Linked DNA regions of Homo sapiens. The protein of the gene in region 1 purifies or fractionates together with the protein of each later gene. This does not show direct contact. Each region holds a gene or a part of one and is shown in the gene's direction. Other genes may lie near its edges.

The links.
Region 2: the proteins of DDX19A (region 1) and NUP214 purify together in Homo sapiens (affinity purification with mass spectrometry; 3 studies listed by BioGRID and IntAct, with this or other methods). This does not show direct contact.

The regions. Positions count from the first base shown.
Region 1 is NC_000016.10:70,342,496-70,349,919, forward strand, and holds the start of DDX19A (ATP-dependent RNA helicase DDX19A), read left to right. Parts: upstream 1-4,407; 5' UTR 4,408-4,496; coding exon 4,497-4,553; intron 4,554-7,424. UniProt on the Homo sapiens protein: ATP-dependent RNA helicase involved in mRNA export from the nucleus.
Region 2 is NC_000009.12:131,142,566-131,149,597, forward strand, and holds part of NUP214 (nuclear pore complex protein Nup214), read left to right. Parts: intron 1-1,714; coding exon 1,715-2,189; intron 2,190-3,563; coding exon 3,564-3,739; intron 3,740-4,921; coding exon of another isoform or gene 4,922-4,924; coding exon 4,925-5,019; intron 5,020-7,032. UniProt on the Homo sapiens protein: Part of the nuclear pore complex. Has a critical role in nucleocytoplasmic transport.

The DNA.
Region 1 (7,424 bases):
CTTTCCTCTTCACTCAGTCCTTCCCTTCCATCTCATTTTTCCTAATCCTTCCTGTTCCCAAGGTAACAATCACTTCTTCGGGAAGGGTTTTTTTTTTTTTTTTTTTTTGAGTCTGAGTCTCGCTGTCGCCCAGGCTAGAGTGTAGCAGCATGATCTCGACTCACTGCAACCTCCGCCTCCTGGGTTCAAACGATTCTCCTGCCTCAGCCTCCCGAGTAGCTGGGATTACAGGCGCCTGCCACCATACCCGGCTAATTTATGTATTTTTAGTAGAGACGGGGGTTTCACCATGTTGGCCAGGCTGGTCTCGAACTCCTGACCTCAGGTGATCCGCCCCCACCTTGGCCTCTCAAGGTGCTAGGATTACAGGTGTGAGCTACCATGCCAGGCATGTTCCTTCATCACAATCTCCCATAGTGCCCTGTACTTCCTGAATCAGCATTATCTTAGGCAACCTCTGAAGGTCTACATAGATTCTCTCATTCACTCCTTACAACAAAGGTGTTGATTCCTATTTTACAGATAAAGAAGCAGGCACAGAGAGGTCTAGTAATTTGGCCCAGTCTGGCTCCAGGGCCCACACTCTTAACCACAAGGGTGTATTTGCCTCATGCTGCTTTTGGGACTCTTGGTTAAACATATGTCCTCACTTCTATTTGAAGTCCAGTAAGGGTAGTGAGTATATCTAACTTAATCACCACTGAATTCCTAGCTGGCAGCAGGGGGGTACTGCAGAGAAAGCTGCCCTGTTAACGTGTGTTAAGAACCAGGTGTGGTGGCTCACACCTATAATCCCAGTGCTTTTGGGAGGCCAAGGCAGGAGGATCACTTGAGGCCAGGAGTTTGAAGTTACAGTAAGCTATGATCACATCATTGTACTCCAGCCTGGGTGACAGGGCAAGGCCCTGTCTCTGTAACAACAACAACAAAAAAAAAACAGAAGTGGGCCTGGCTCAGTGGCTCACACCTGTAATCCCAGCACTTTGGGAGGCCAAGGTGGGAGAATGGCTTGAGCCTGGGAATTTGAGGCTGCAGTGAGCTGTTTGTGCCACTGCACTCCAGCTTGAGTGACAGAGCAAGACCCTGTCTCCCCCAACAACAACAACAAAATCCTCACACCCTCCTTTTTAATGGTACAAATAAATTTATTACTACTTGTATTTTTTAAGTTGGATTTTTTTCATTACATGGCTTTGTCTATTACCTATAGTTTACATAGAGTACAACGCAAAGATAGTAGGTATAAAATTTCATGAGTTTTGATAATTGTATACACGTATAATCACTGCTTCAATCAAGATATAGAGCATTTTTGGCTGGTGTGGTGGCTCATGCCTGTAATCCCAGCACTTTGGGAGGCCGAGGCAGGCGGATCACTTGAGGTCAGGAGTTTGAGACCAATGTGGCCAATGTGGTGAAACCCTGTGTCTACTAAAAATGCAAAAAATTAGCCAGGCCTGGTAGCGGGCGCCTATAGTCCCAGCTACTCAGGAGGCTGAGACAGGAGAATCGCTTGAACTTGGGAGGTGGAGGCTGCAATGAGCTGAGATTGCGCCACTGCACTCCAGCCTTGGAAATAGAGCAAGACTCCGTCTCAAAAAAAAAAAAAAAAAAAAAGATACAGAGCATTTTCATCATCCCTGAAGTTCCCTTGTACCCCTTCCCAGTCAATCCTACTCACTCTATCTCATCCCCAGGCAACCACTGTTCTGATTTCTATCTCTATAGATTAGATATACCTGTTTTGGGCTTATATGAATGGAATCATGCAATATGTACTCTTTTTGCACCTGGGTTCTTTCATGCAATATAATGTCTATGAGATGTCAAATCTCTCCACTTGATCTTGGCCAAGAGAGCGAGACGCGATGAGATGTCAAATCTCTCATCCATGTTATTGCATGTATTTCATTCCTTTTTATTATTATTTTTTGAGACAGAGTCTTGCTCTGTCACCCAGGCTGGAGTGCAGTGGGGCAATCTTGGCTCCCGCAACCTCCGCCTACCGAGTTCAAGCGATTCTCCTGCCTCAGCCTCTCCCGAGTAGCTGGGATTACAGGCGCACCCCACCACACCTGGCTAATTTTTTTTTTTTTTTTTTTTGAGACCGGGTCTCCCTCTGTTGCCCAGGCTGGAGTGCAGTGGCGCGATCTCAGCTCACTGCAAGCTCTGCCTCCTGGGTTCACACCATTCTCCTGCCTCAGCCTCCCGAGTAGCTGGGACGATAGGCACCCGCCACCACGCCCAGCTAATTTTGTTTTTGTATTTTTAGTAGAGACAGGGTTTCACTGTGTTAGCCAGGCTGGTCTCGATCTCCTGACCTCAGGTGATCCACCTGCCTTGGCCTCCCAAAGTGCTGGGATTATAGGCATGAGCCACTGCGCCCGGCCCTAATTTTTGTATTTTTAGTAGAGGTGAGGTTTCGCCATGTTGGCCAGGCTGGTCTCGAACTCCTGACCTCAGGTGATCCACCAGCCTTGGCCTCCCAAAGTGCTAGGGTTATAGGCGTGAGCCACCGCCCCCGGCCCTTTTTTTGATTTTTAATCAACATTATTGAAAGGTATAATTTATATACCATGATATTTTAAATGCACAAGTTCTCACACAAAAATTAGCCAGGGGTGGTGGCGAAGTGCTATATTCCCAGCTGCTGGGGAGCTGAGGTGCGAGGATCACTTGAGTCTGGGAGATCAAGGCTGCAGTGAGCTGTGAACGTGCCACTGCATTCCAGCCTAGGTGACAGAGCAAGACCCTGTCACAAAAAACAAACAAAAACAGTTATTCTTCCTTGGGAACTGCTTATAAAAAAGAAAAAGCAGGTCAGCACTGTGGCTCACACCTGTAATCCCAGCACTTTGGGCGGCCCAGGCAGGCAGATCCTTGAGCTCAGGAGTTCAAGGCCAGCCTAGCCAACGTGGTGAAACTCCATCTCTACTAAAAATACAAACATTATCTGGGCGTGGTGGCGTGTGCCTGTAATCCCAGCTACTTGGGAGGCTGAGGCAGGAGAACCGCTTGAATCCAGGAAGCAGAGGTTGCAGTGAGCCAAGACCCGGCCACTGCACTCCAGCCTGGGTGATATCTGTAAATAATGGTTCCATGAGTTTAGAAATACAAAGTAGCATGACTTAACAAATTTACACATCTATGTAACCAGGTCCCAATCAAGATACAGAATAATTCTATCACCCAGGAAGTTCTCTTGTGTCTGGACCAAACATCCTTCTCCACAGGTAAGCTCTGTTAGTTTTTATCAGCATAGATTTTATTTGTCCTATTCTTGAATCTCATATAAATAGATTATACATTATGTATTTGGTGGTCCTTCAACATAATGGCCAGGTGTGGTGGCTCATGCCTGTAATCCCAACACTTTGAGAGGCCAAGGCAGGAGGATCTCTGGAGTTAGCAGGAGATCAAAAGCAGCCTGAGCAATATAATGAAGACTTCCGTCTCTGCAAAAAGTTTAAAAACTAGCCAGGAGTGGTGGTGCGGGCCTGTGGGCCCAGCTACCTGGGAGGCTGAGGTGGGAGGTCAAGGGTGCAGTGAGCCGAGATCACACCACTGCATTCCAGCCTGGGCGACACAATGAGACCCTGACTCAAAAAAGAAACGAAAAAACGCATTGTGTGTTGTGTTTATTGGATGGTGGAATTATGGGGTTTACGGGTCTTCTGTTGCGTTTTGGTTTTTGTTTTCTTACCTGTTATCGCGTTCCTAACAGTAGAAATTGGCATCATATAGTATTCTCATGGAACTTTCCTTTGTTCAAAGCCCTACAGTTCAGAGACTTACACATTTAATGTGAGATATGACAGGCTTAAAAAGAAACGTTGGGGGCCGGGCGCGGTGGCTCACGCCTGTAATCCCAACACTTTGGGAGGCTGAGGCGGGAGGATCACAAGGTCAGCAGTTCGAGATCAGCCTGGCCAACATGGTGAAACCCCATCTCTACTAAAAATACAAAAATTAGCCGGGCGTGGTGGCGGGCACCTGTAATCCCAGCTACTCGGGAGGCTGAGGTAGAATAGCTTGAACACGGAGGCGGAGGTTGCAGTGAGTCGAGATCCCGCCACGGCACTCCAGCCTGGGACAGAGCGAGACTCCGTCTCGAAAAAAAATAATAAAATAAATAATAAAATAAATAAAATAAAATAAACGTTGGCTTATTTCAGTGTGAAGTAAGGCAATAAACGGAGGGCTAACAGTTCCACTTCGTAGAGCTCAGACATTTTAAGAAGCGAGGAGGCCGCGTCCTGGAAGGGTGAGCAAAAAGCGCGAGGTTTGCGCACGAAGGGAAAGGCGAGGCCCGAGGAGAGACCTGGCGCCGCGCAGAATGATGATGTCGCACGCTGGGTGGGAACTGACGTCACCTGTGCTCACCGCCGCTTCCGGTCCGCGTGAGGTGCATTCTCGCGCCGGTGGCGAGGTTAGGGCCCGCGTTGCGACGTGGTGCAGCGCATATTTTCACAAGTGGGTCTCCCTTGTCCGGGACTATGGCCACCGACTCGTGGGCCCTGGCGGTGGACGAGCAGGAAGCGGCTGTCAAGTCGGTCAGTAGCTCAGCTCCTGGCGAGGAGGACGTAGCAGGGGCCCAAGCGAAACCTCCCAAAAGCACAGGGAGCTCCCCGGGTTGGGGAGGCCCCTGGGCAACGCGCTCCTGCAGTTTGCTAGGGCAGTCACTTGCCCTTGATTTGCTCTTAGAGCTAAAGAGACCAATGTCGAGCTTTTTATCTCCATCTGGGCTGGTTAAGGACTTCATCCTTTGGTAAATCCGCCCCACTATGCATGCTGTCATTCCTCTATTGACCTCCTCGGTGACGATTATAAGGAAAGCCAAGTTTAGATTCTGATTCTCTTTTTCATTACGCGACTGTTCTTCGCATGTTTCTGTACTACTCTGTATTTAACATTTCTTAGATCCATGCTTAACGTGGTTGGTAGTTTGTAGCTCTTTGCAGAATAACAGATTGACTTTTGGATTTAATACCTCAATCTACTGCAGATGTTGGAAGGAGGCACTACAAATTGTTTCATTGATGTGTAAAGTAACGGTTTCATGTACTTGTTCTTTCAGTAATGAATATTCATTCAACTGGAATGTAATTACAGCATACACTGTGGCTTTCTGTTCTTATATCTAAGACCTAAACTTTAGGTTTGTTTAGTGATAATGGACTGTCTTTTTTTTTGTTGTAGTTGTTTCTCTTTTGAGGCAGAGTTTTGCTCTTGTTGCCCAGGCTGGAGTGCAATGGCGCCATCTCGGCTCACCGCAACCTCCGCCTCCCGGGTTCAAGCGATTCTCCTGCCTCAGTCTCCCGAGTAGCTGGGATTACAGGCATGCGCCACCACGCCCGGCTAATTTTGTATTTTTTGTAGAGACGGGGTTTCTCCATGTTGGTCAGGCTGGTCTCGAACTCCCGACCTCAAGTGATCCGCCCACCTCGGCCTCCCAAAGTGCTGGGATTACAGCCGTGAGTCACCGCGCCCAGCCGGTATGGGGATTTTTGAGAGGGCTATTGACAGAATTAGACAAGGCTGGCAAGGATTTATTGAACTACAGAGAACAGAATATGTTAGAAGTGATGGCTAATAGAAATATCAGTGTAGAAGTTATTCTGATAGCCCCGAGATAGAGGGCCTATGTTGGGCAGTGGAAGTGAAAATTAAGGGATGGGTATAAGATATGAAGGTAGAATGGGTAGGACTTGCTAACATAATAAAGGAGAGAAGGGAGATAAAGCCAAAGGTTTCTGTTTTCAACCTGGATCCTATTGGTACTACTAACGTCCCAATAACAGGAATAGGAAAGTGGGAGGAAGGGCAGATTTGATAGAATGGTGAAGGCAGCCGGGCATGATGGCACCCACCTGTGATCCCAGCACTTTGGGAGGCCGAGGCGGGCAGATCACTCGAGGTCAAGAGTTTGATACCAGCCTGGCCAACATAGTGAAACCCTGTCTCTACTAAAAATACAAAAGTTAGCCAGGCGTGGTAGTCGTCCCCTGTTAATACCAGCTACTCAGGAGGCTGAGGCATGAGAATTGCTTGAACCTGGGAGGTGGAGGTTGCAGTGAGCCAAAATTACGCCACTGCACTCCAGCCTGGGCTACTGAGTGAGACTCTGTCTCAAAAAAAAAAAAAAAAAAAAAAAGAGGTGAAGGCTGGGCACAGTGGCTCACACCTGTAATCCTAGCACTTTGGGAAACTGAGACAGGCAGATCAGTTGAACCCAGGAGTTCAAGACCAGTGTGGGCAACATGGCGAAACCCCATTTCTACAAAAATACAAAAAAAATTAGCTGGGCGGGGTGGTGGTACACTCCTGTAGTCCCAGTTACTCAGGATGCTGAGGTGGGAGGATCACCTGAGCCTAGGGAGGTTGAGGCTGCAGTGAGCTGTGATCACACCACTGCACTCCAGCATGGGTGACGGTGAGACCCTGTTTCAAAAAAAGAAAAAAGGGAATGGTGAGTTCAGGTTTGGCTGTTCTGAATTTAAAATAAGGAAACATCTTGGTAAGTACCTGTTGTGGGAGTCCCCAAGAGATGCCAGGTTTGACGATTTGTTAGGAGAACTCACAGGCTCAGTATGTAGTTGTACTCACAACTATGATTTATTATAGTGAAAAGATACAAAGCAAAATTAGTGGAGGAAAAAGGCTCATGGGCTAAGTCCAGAGGAAACCAGGCAAACTTCCAAGTTATCTCCCAATGGAGTCCACAGAGTGTGCTTCATTCTTCCGGTAGCAAATTGTAACAGCACATATGAAGTGGTGTCAGGGAAGCTTGTTAGAGACTCTACTTGAGGCTTTTATTGGGGGGCTGTCATATAGTCACCCTGTGCCTAGCATGTACCAGAATTCCAGACTTCCAGAAGGAATGCAGGTGGTTAGCATAAATTACATGCAACTGTTTTTAAAAAGAGTTGAGGCAGACTGACCCCCTCTTATCAGTTCTAGGAATGATGGGAACCTTCCCAAAGTCCAAGTTCGCAGGTGACAGCCAAGGGCCAGCCTTGCAAATAGGCTTTCCTAAGGAGAGCGGTCAGGCCTGCTGTGTTCTCTTCTGCCCGGTAGCCATCAGACATTTGGAAATACAGCACTGGAGTTCAGGAGAAGGAGCAGGTCAGAGGTATAAAACTGGCAGTTTCCACAAAGAAATTACAAAGCATTATCAAGGGCATGGTCCTTGCACTCTGGAGTTTAAAATCTAGCGTTTAGCATCAGATCTTCTCTGAAAGAGTTACTGAGAATTGGTTTCAAACCTTGTGAAATCTGTGATCCTAACCTAGCTGTGACATGAATATCACAAATATAGGCCTAAACATACTTGGTATCTGGTTCTAAGCATCCAGCTTATCAGAAGGCTGGTATAAATAAAGGCTTCCTAATAGTTGGAGAAGACCTTTTTTTTCACCATGTAG
Region 2 (7,032 bases), on another chromosome or scaffold:
TGTTTTCAGTGGAAAAAATGCTTTTGATTTATTTAGGGTCTGGTATATATTTTTCATGTCAGTTTACCTAATATGCATGAAAGTGTTTTAACATCTATGTATGTCTTTACAGAAGTTAGTTGTAGCTGGTTCCATATCTATTGTATAAAGAAGTATTAACAGAATAGGTTTGCTTGCATTATTATACTTTCATCAATGTGACAGTTTACTTGGATTTTTGTTTTCAGAAAGTGGTATTTTCATACTTGTATCTAAGTATTACGTTGCATTAGACAAAGTGTCTTCCATGAAGATAAACTGCCATCTTAGCTAATTTGGAACAACCAAGTCCTATTAATATAAATAGAAAATATTGACACAAAGAATTCTTTTCTTATTTAGTTGGTTATTTAATTTAAAGATTAATATTTTTACCTTATGGAAAGTTTGGAAAATAGAAAAAAAAATTATTCATTTTTGAGACAGGGGTCTCACTCTGTTGTGCAGGCTGGAGTGTAGTGGCAGGATCTTGGCTCACTGCAGCCTCTGTCTCCCAAGTCCAAGCGATCCTCCCACCTCAGCCTCCCAAGTAGCTGGGACTACAGGCACAAGCCATCACACCTGGCTGATTTTTGTATTTTTTTTGTAGCAACAGGGTCTCACTTTGTTCCCCAGGCTGGTCTCAAACTCCTGGACTCAAAGGGTCCTCCTGCTTTGCCCTCCCAAAGCTCTGGGATTACAGGCATGAGCCACTGCGCCCAGCCTTCCATTGACTTTTTTTTTTCTTTTTAACCATTTGGATTGCATTAAATATCTTTTTCATTTTTTGCATTATGTTTGTAAGCTTTATTCTTAGAAGAGAAATTACTGGGTCTGTTTTTTACAGTTTTTTATACAATGCCAAAATGTTTTCTTAAAAAAAATACTAGTTACCTACCAGTGATAAAAAGTTTCAGGTTTGTTTTACCCATCCAAACATAAGGGGTTAGACATATTTAAATTCTTATAATTTAGAGGACAAATTAAAAATGTACCTTGTTTATATTTCTTTGATTAGAGAGATTGAATGTGTTTTCTTTATGTGAGTTAGTTTCCCTGTTTATTAGTCCTGAAATTTTAAAATCTCAATTTGTATGAGCTTTTTAAAAAATAGAAAACATCTTATTTGTCATTTGCTATGGATCTTTTTTTTTAGTTCATTACCATTTAGTTATTGTACCTGAGTAGCTATTTTTTACACAAATCTTAACCTTCTCCCTTTGCGATTGTTTTTTTTTTGGTCACTTCTAAATTTATCAAGGTGTTAGATTCTGAGACCTAACATATCTATCAATTTGCCTCCTTTGTTTTGAGATACCTGTATTTATGTGACTTTCTATGTGTATTTATCTGGAATTACTTTTAGTGAAATAAGGTGGAGGTCTGAATTAAAACTTTTTCCTGGTTGTTAATGAAATGTTGCAGTGACTGAACTGTTTTGTGTGCCATAGTAGCACTGAGAAGTCCATGAAGTCCAATTATTCTAATGTCTTTCCTTAGTTTTCCTTCAGTTTCATTTATCTCATGAGACCTGAAAACTCCAACATGAACTGTGTACCCATGTGTTCTTTTTGCTTCTTAAACTAGTAACATTTCTGGCTTTATTCTACCACAAATTCTTTTTCACTTGCTTTCTATTATGTGAACCTCCACTGTTACAGTGTTAACATTTTCCTTCCTTTTTTTGTCACTGCAGGAAGTACTCCCACTACCCCAACCTCCTCTCAAGCCCCACAGAAACTGGATGCTTCTGCAGCTGCAGCCCCTGCCTCTCTGCCACCTTCATCACCTGCTGCTCCCATTGCCACTTTTTCTTTGCTTCCTGCTGGTGGAGCCCCCACTGTGTTCTCCTTTGGTTCTTCATCTTTGAAGTCATCTGCTACGGTCACTGGGGAGCCCCCTTCATATTCCAGTGGCTCCGACAGCTCCAAAGCAGCCCCAGGCCCTGGCCCATCAACCTTCTCTTTTGTTCCCCCTTCTAAAGCCTCCCTAGCCCCCACCCCTGCAGCGTCTCCTGTGGCTCCATCAGCTGCTTCATTCTCCTTTGGATCATCTGGTTTTAAGCCTACCCTGGAAAGCACACCAGTGCCAAGTGTGTCTGCTCCAAATATAGCAATGAAGCCCTCCTTCCCACCCTCAACCTCTGCTGTCAAAGTCAACCTTAGTGAAAAGTAAGTCACTTCTAAAGTTTGATTCTTCTGTGAGTTGGGTAGAAATATTGGATGTTATTTACTAAAAGTAGAGTCACTCTGAGAGGAGTTAACTGAGTAGAATTTTTTTACCCAGAGTGATACTTGCAAATGGCAAAAATTCAACCAACATAAAATACTGGCATTTCATCAGTGAATAGAGTCCAGAAGGGTCTCTTAGCTAGCATTTTATTTTTTTGACTATGGGATTTATATTCAGGTATTTGTTTTGCTTTTTTACGTTACAAATGTAGGAAATATTCCTTATTTTAAAAAAAGAAGCAATCCAGAGTATGCATCCTGGAAGGGAAATGAATCCCTTGTAGTCTTTTTTCCTCCCTGTGTCTACCCTTAACTCTCTCTGAACTGCTGTCTACACAGCCACAAAGTCATCTTGTGACACTGTAAATTGTTAGGTGATTCTTCTGCTTGACAGTCCCTATGAAGCCCCGTGGCTGCTCACTGCTAATTCTTAGGTTGGTATCCAGTTTCCTCCAGATCTGGGTCGGGCAGCTCACTCATTTCTTATTTATTTACTTCTTTATCTTGTTCTTTTCTTCCCACTAGAATGTAAGCTTTTGGAGGGAAGCAATCCCTTATATCTTGTAACCCCTCCCAAGATAACCATGAGTTCCCAAGATAACCATCGAGTATAAGTACTACCAGCTTTTTCCCTACTTGCCTGTACTATCTGTTGTTGCTATGGTGGTGCTGCTGCCACCACAGTTACTGTTAATACTGAATTGGCACACATCCACTTCATGCTAAGGGTTGCATAGTGTTCCATTTTGTTGACTGCACCACAGTTTATCTGACCAGTCATCTAATGCTGGAGTTTAGATTGTCTACAGACTTTTGCTCTTTAGGTGGAACCGACTTTACATTTCCTTTAGGCCATAAGTATCCCAAAGACAGTTCCCTGCATTCCTCTTCCTTTTTCACTCCCCAGAGAAGGTGCTCACTCTCAAAACGAGTTCTCAGTAATTTCCTTGGTAAGAGAAAGTACTAACTCTCCTAAGCATAATTGTGTCCCACCTCCTGTTTAAAACTCAGCTGGAAACAATAGTATTTCATATCATGATAAACTTGGTATTTCATATTGTGATAAACTTAGTTTTGATATTTCCCCTGAATAATTAATTCCTAAATAAGCAGACGAAAAGATAAATGTTTCCTTGCAGCTTTCACCTTTTATAAGAAATAGCTAAACATTTTTGTTTCCTGAAGGCAAAAAGTATGTTATCTTTGTAAGTTAACATAAAAGATAATAAGTTATCTTTTGATGACATTGCTCATGCTAGTGTAAAAGAATCTTCTAGCAGGCTCTTCTGAGGCCTTCAGGCTGCCATTTTTCAGGTTTACTGCTGCAGCTACCTCTACTCCTGTTAGTAGCTCCCAGAGCGCACCCCCGATGTCGCCATTCTCTTCTGCCTCCAAGCCAGCTGCTTCTGGACCACTCAGCCACCCCACACCTCTCTCAGCACCACCTAGTTCCGTGCCATTGAAGTCCTCAGTCTTGCCCTCACCATCAGGTATGATTTTAAGCAGACAACTTTAGACCTCAGCCCTGCCTTCTCAGATTAACGGTTTTAAGTGTTAAGAGTCGTAGCTAACATAGTTGGACAAGGTTATTTTTTCTTGCTTCCTGTATCATACATTAATGATTAATGTGCTGTGATTTTCATACTCTGAATTGGGAGATTTGCTCTTGCTTAAATGCTGCCACTCTTCTCTCTGACACTTCTTATGGAGCTAAGTGTATTTAATGAGTCAAAAATGCCTTGCTCTTGGGCATTTATTTTCATATGGAGCCTGCCCTCCATGAAGAGCAGTTACATAACAGTTCTTTAAGAAGCACAGGCACAAGAGTTGTTTGGCGGGGTGCGGTGGCTCACGCCTATAAACCCAGCACTTTGGGAGGCCAAGGCAGGTGGATCACCGGAGGTTAGGAGTTCGAGACCAGCCTGGCCAACATGGCAAAACCCCATCTCTACTAAAAATACAAAAATTAGCCAGGTGTGGTGGTGGGTGCCTGTAATCCCAGCTACTCAGGAGGCTGAGGCGGGAGAATCACTTGAACCTAGGAGGCAGAGATTGCAGGGAGTCGAGATCACGCCACTGCTCTCCAGCCTGGCGACAGAGCGAGACTCTGTCTCAAAAAAAAAAAAAAGTACAGAGGAGAGAGTACCTGCAGTGATTATATTCATATTTTCACAGTCAGTCATACTGTAAACAGGAAGTTTTGTTTTGTTTTTTGAGACCCTCTCACTCTCTCACCCAAGCACATCACTGCAGCCTCTACCTCCTGGGCTCAAGCGATCTTCCCACCTTAGCCTCCTGAGTAGCTGGGACTACAGGCATGTACCACCACCGTCGGCTAATTTTTAAATTTTTTTGTAGAGACAAAGTCTTGCCATGTTGCTCAGGCTGGTCTCAAACTCCTGGGCTCAAGCAATCCTCCTGCCTCAGCCTCCCAAAAGGCTAGGATTACAGGTTTGAGCCACCATACCTGGCTCCTAAAATTTTAATATATTTTTTTCATTATCTTAGAACAGAGGCTAGCACAACTGGTGGTCATCACTCTTTAAAATAAATCATGAAAGTGGGCCAGGGGCAATGTGTAACTTAATTTCTTAGATTTGGAGAAAGGACATTTGTGATAGGAGAAATAAAGGTAATAAATGCCATCTATTTTAACTGACTTCTTTTTCAAGCAGGACGATCTGCTCAGGGCAGTTCAAGCCCAGTGCCCTCAATGGTACAGAAATCACCCAGGATAACCCCTCCAGCGGCAAAGCCAGGCTCTCCCCAGGTATGTTTAAATTCAGCTTGCAATGTTTGTGTTTATTAATTTACTGCCCCAAGCATACCTATGAATAAAATGAGTTTTCATGTTTTATAATTCAGACCTTGGACATAGTAATTGGGACTATGTGATAGTAAATACCAAAGTGCGAGGTTTGAATACTTGTATACTCGTAAAAGCCATTTAGCTATTTTAATTTTTTATTCATGTATAATACAAATAGAAAAAAGTACACATGATACATGTACAGCTCAGTGAATTGTCAACAACTGAACATACCTTGGTAACTAGCATCCAGATCAAGAAACAGAATTTTACGAGAACCTGGCTGGGCACAGTGGGTCATGCCTGTAATCCCAGCACTTTGGGAGGCCAAGGCGGGCGGATCACCTGAGGCCAGTAGTTCGAGACTAGCCTGGTCGACATGGTGAAACCCCGTCTCTACTAAAAACGCAAAAATTAGCCGGGCGTGGTGGCACGTACTTGTAGTCCCAGCTCCTGAGGAGGCTGAGGCATGAGAATCACTTGAACCCGGGAGGCGGAGGCCAGAACCCCAGAGTTCTTTTTCACCTGTCCCCTTCTAGTCACTACTCTTGCCAAAGAGTAGCTGATTTGATTTCCAACAGCATAGATGAGGTTAGCCTGCCTGTACCTCCTATCAAGTGGATTTGTACAGTATGTATTCTTGTATCTGGCTGCTTTGTTCAACATTATGTTTGTGAGATTTATCCATGTCGTTGTATGGAATTTATTGTGTGATTATATTACAACTATTTGTTCCACTCTGATGGGCGCTTGAGTAGTTTCCAGGTTTAAGCCATTGTATGTAGCACTGCTATGACCGTTCCAGTTGACATCTTCAATGAACACATATGCAAGTTTCTCTTGGGTGTATCCCTATGAGTGAGATTGCTGGGTCATAGAATCTGCATGTATTCCTCATTAGTAGATTCCCACCAAGAGTGTATGAGACTTCTGGCTGCTCCACATACTTGCCACTCTTGGTATTTTTCATCTTTTGTTGTATGGTTTTGTGGTTTTAATTTGTATTTCTCTAATGATTAGCAAAATTAAGCTTTTTAAAAGATGATTATTGGCCATTTGAATATTTTCTTTTATGTTGTGTCTGTTCATGTCTTTATTCTGTTTTTCTGTTGGATTGTCTGGCTTTTTCCTTCTGATTTTTAAGAGTGAGTTCCTTGAATACACACACACACGCACACACATACAGTGCAAATATGTTCTCACTGTGAATTGTCTATTCATTGTCTTTTTTGTTTCTTTGATGAATACACATTCTTCATTTTAATATAATTAAGTATATCAGTTTTTTCTTTTATGATTAATGCTTTTCATGTTTTAGAAATAATTTTCTATTTCAAGGTCAAAAAGATGTTTTTCTAAAAGCTTTATTATTTTATCTTTCATATTTAGATTTGTAGTCCATCATCTCAGTTTATTTTTATGGTATAATGTAAAGAGAATTGTATGTCAGTTTCCCACGTGATTACTTGAGTGCCCTGAGAATAAGCGTTATGTCTTTTCCTTTCTGTGTCCCTCTAACCAACCCTTGTACCCTAACACACACCTGTACTAGGTACATAGTAAGTGCCCAGGTCACAGTTCACGGTGTGGCATGATGCATGACATACAGTGTTTGTCAAATAAATGTTTGCTGTTAATGAATGCTGATGCAGTCTAAGACCTCTCTAGTGTTAATCGTTGTAAGTATCAAATAGTCTAAAGGGCATTTCAAATTATAGTATCTTTAAAGCAGAACTCTTGATTTCTGTCTCCCCTAGAGGCTAGTCCTTTTCCAATGGGTAAGTAGCACTAACAAACCAGATGTTTGCACAAGCCCCAAGCCCCGAAGCATCCTAGATCCCTCTCTTTAACAGTACCTGTCCCCAGTCCAGGCTGGCGGGAGGTCTTGTCAGCTCCACCCTCTGCTGTGTCACATGTCATAAGCCCACAGCTCTGTCCCCCTGCTAGCATCCTGTGTCAAGCTGTTGCACCTCT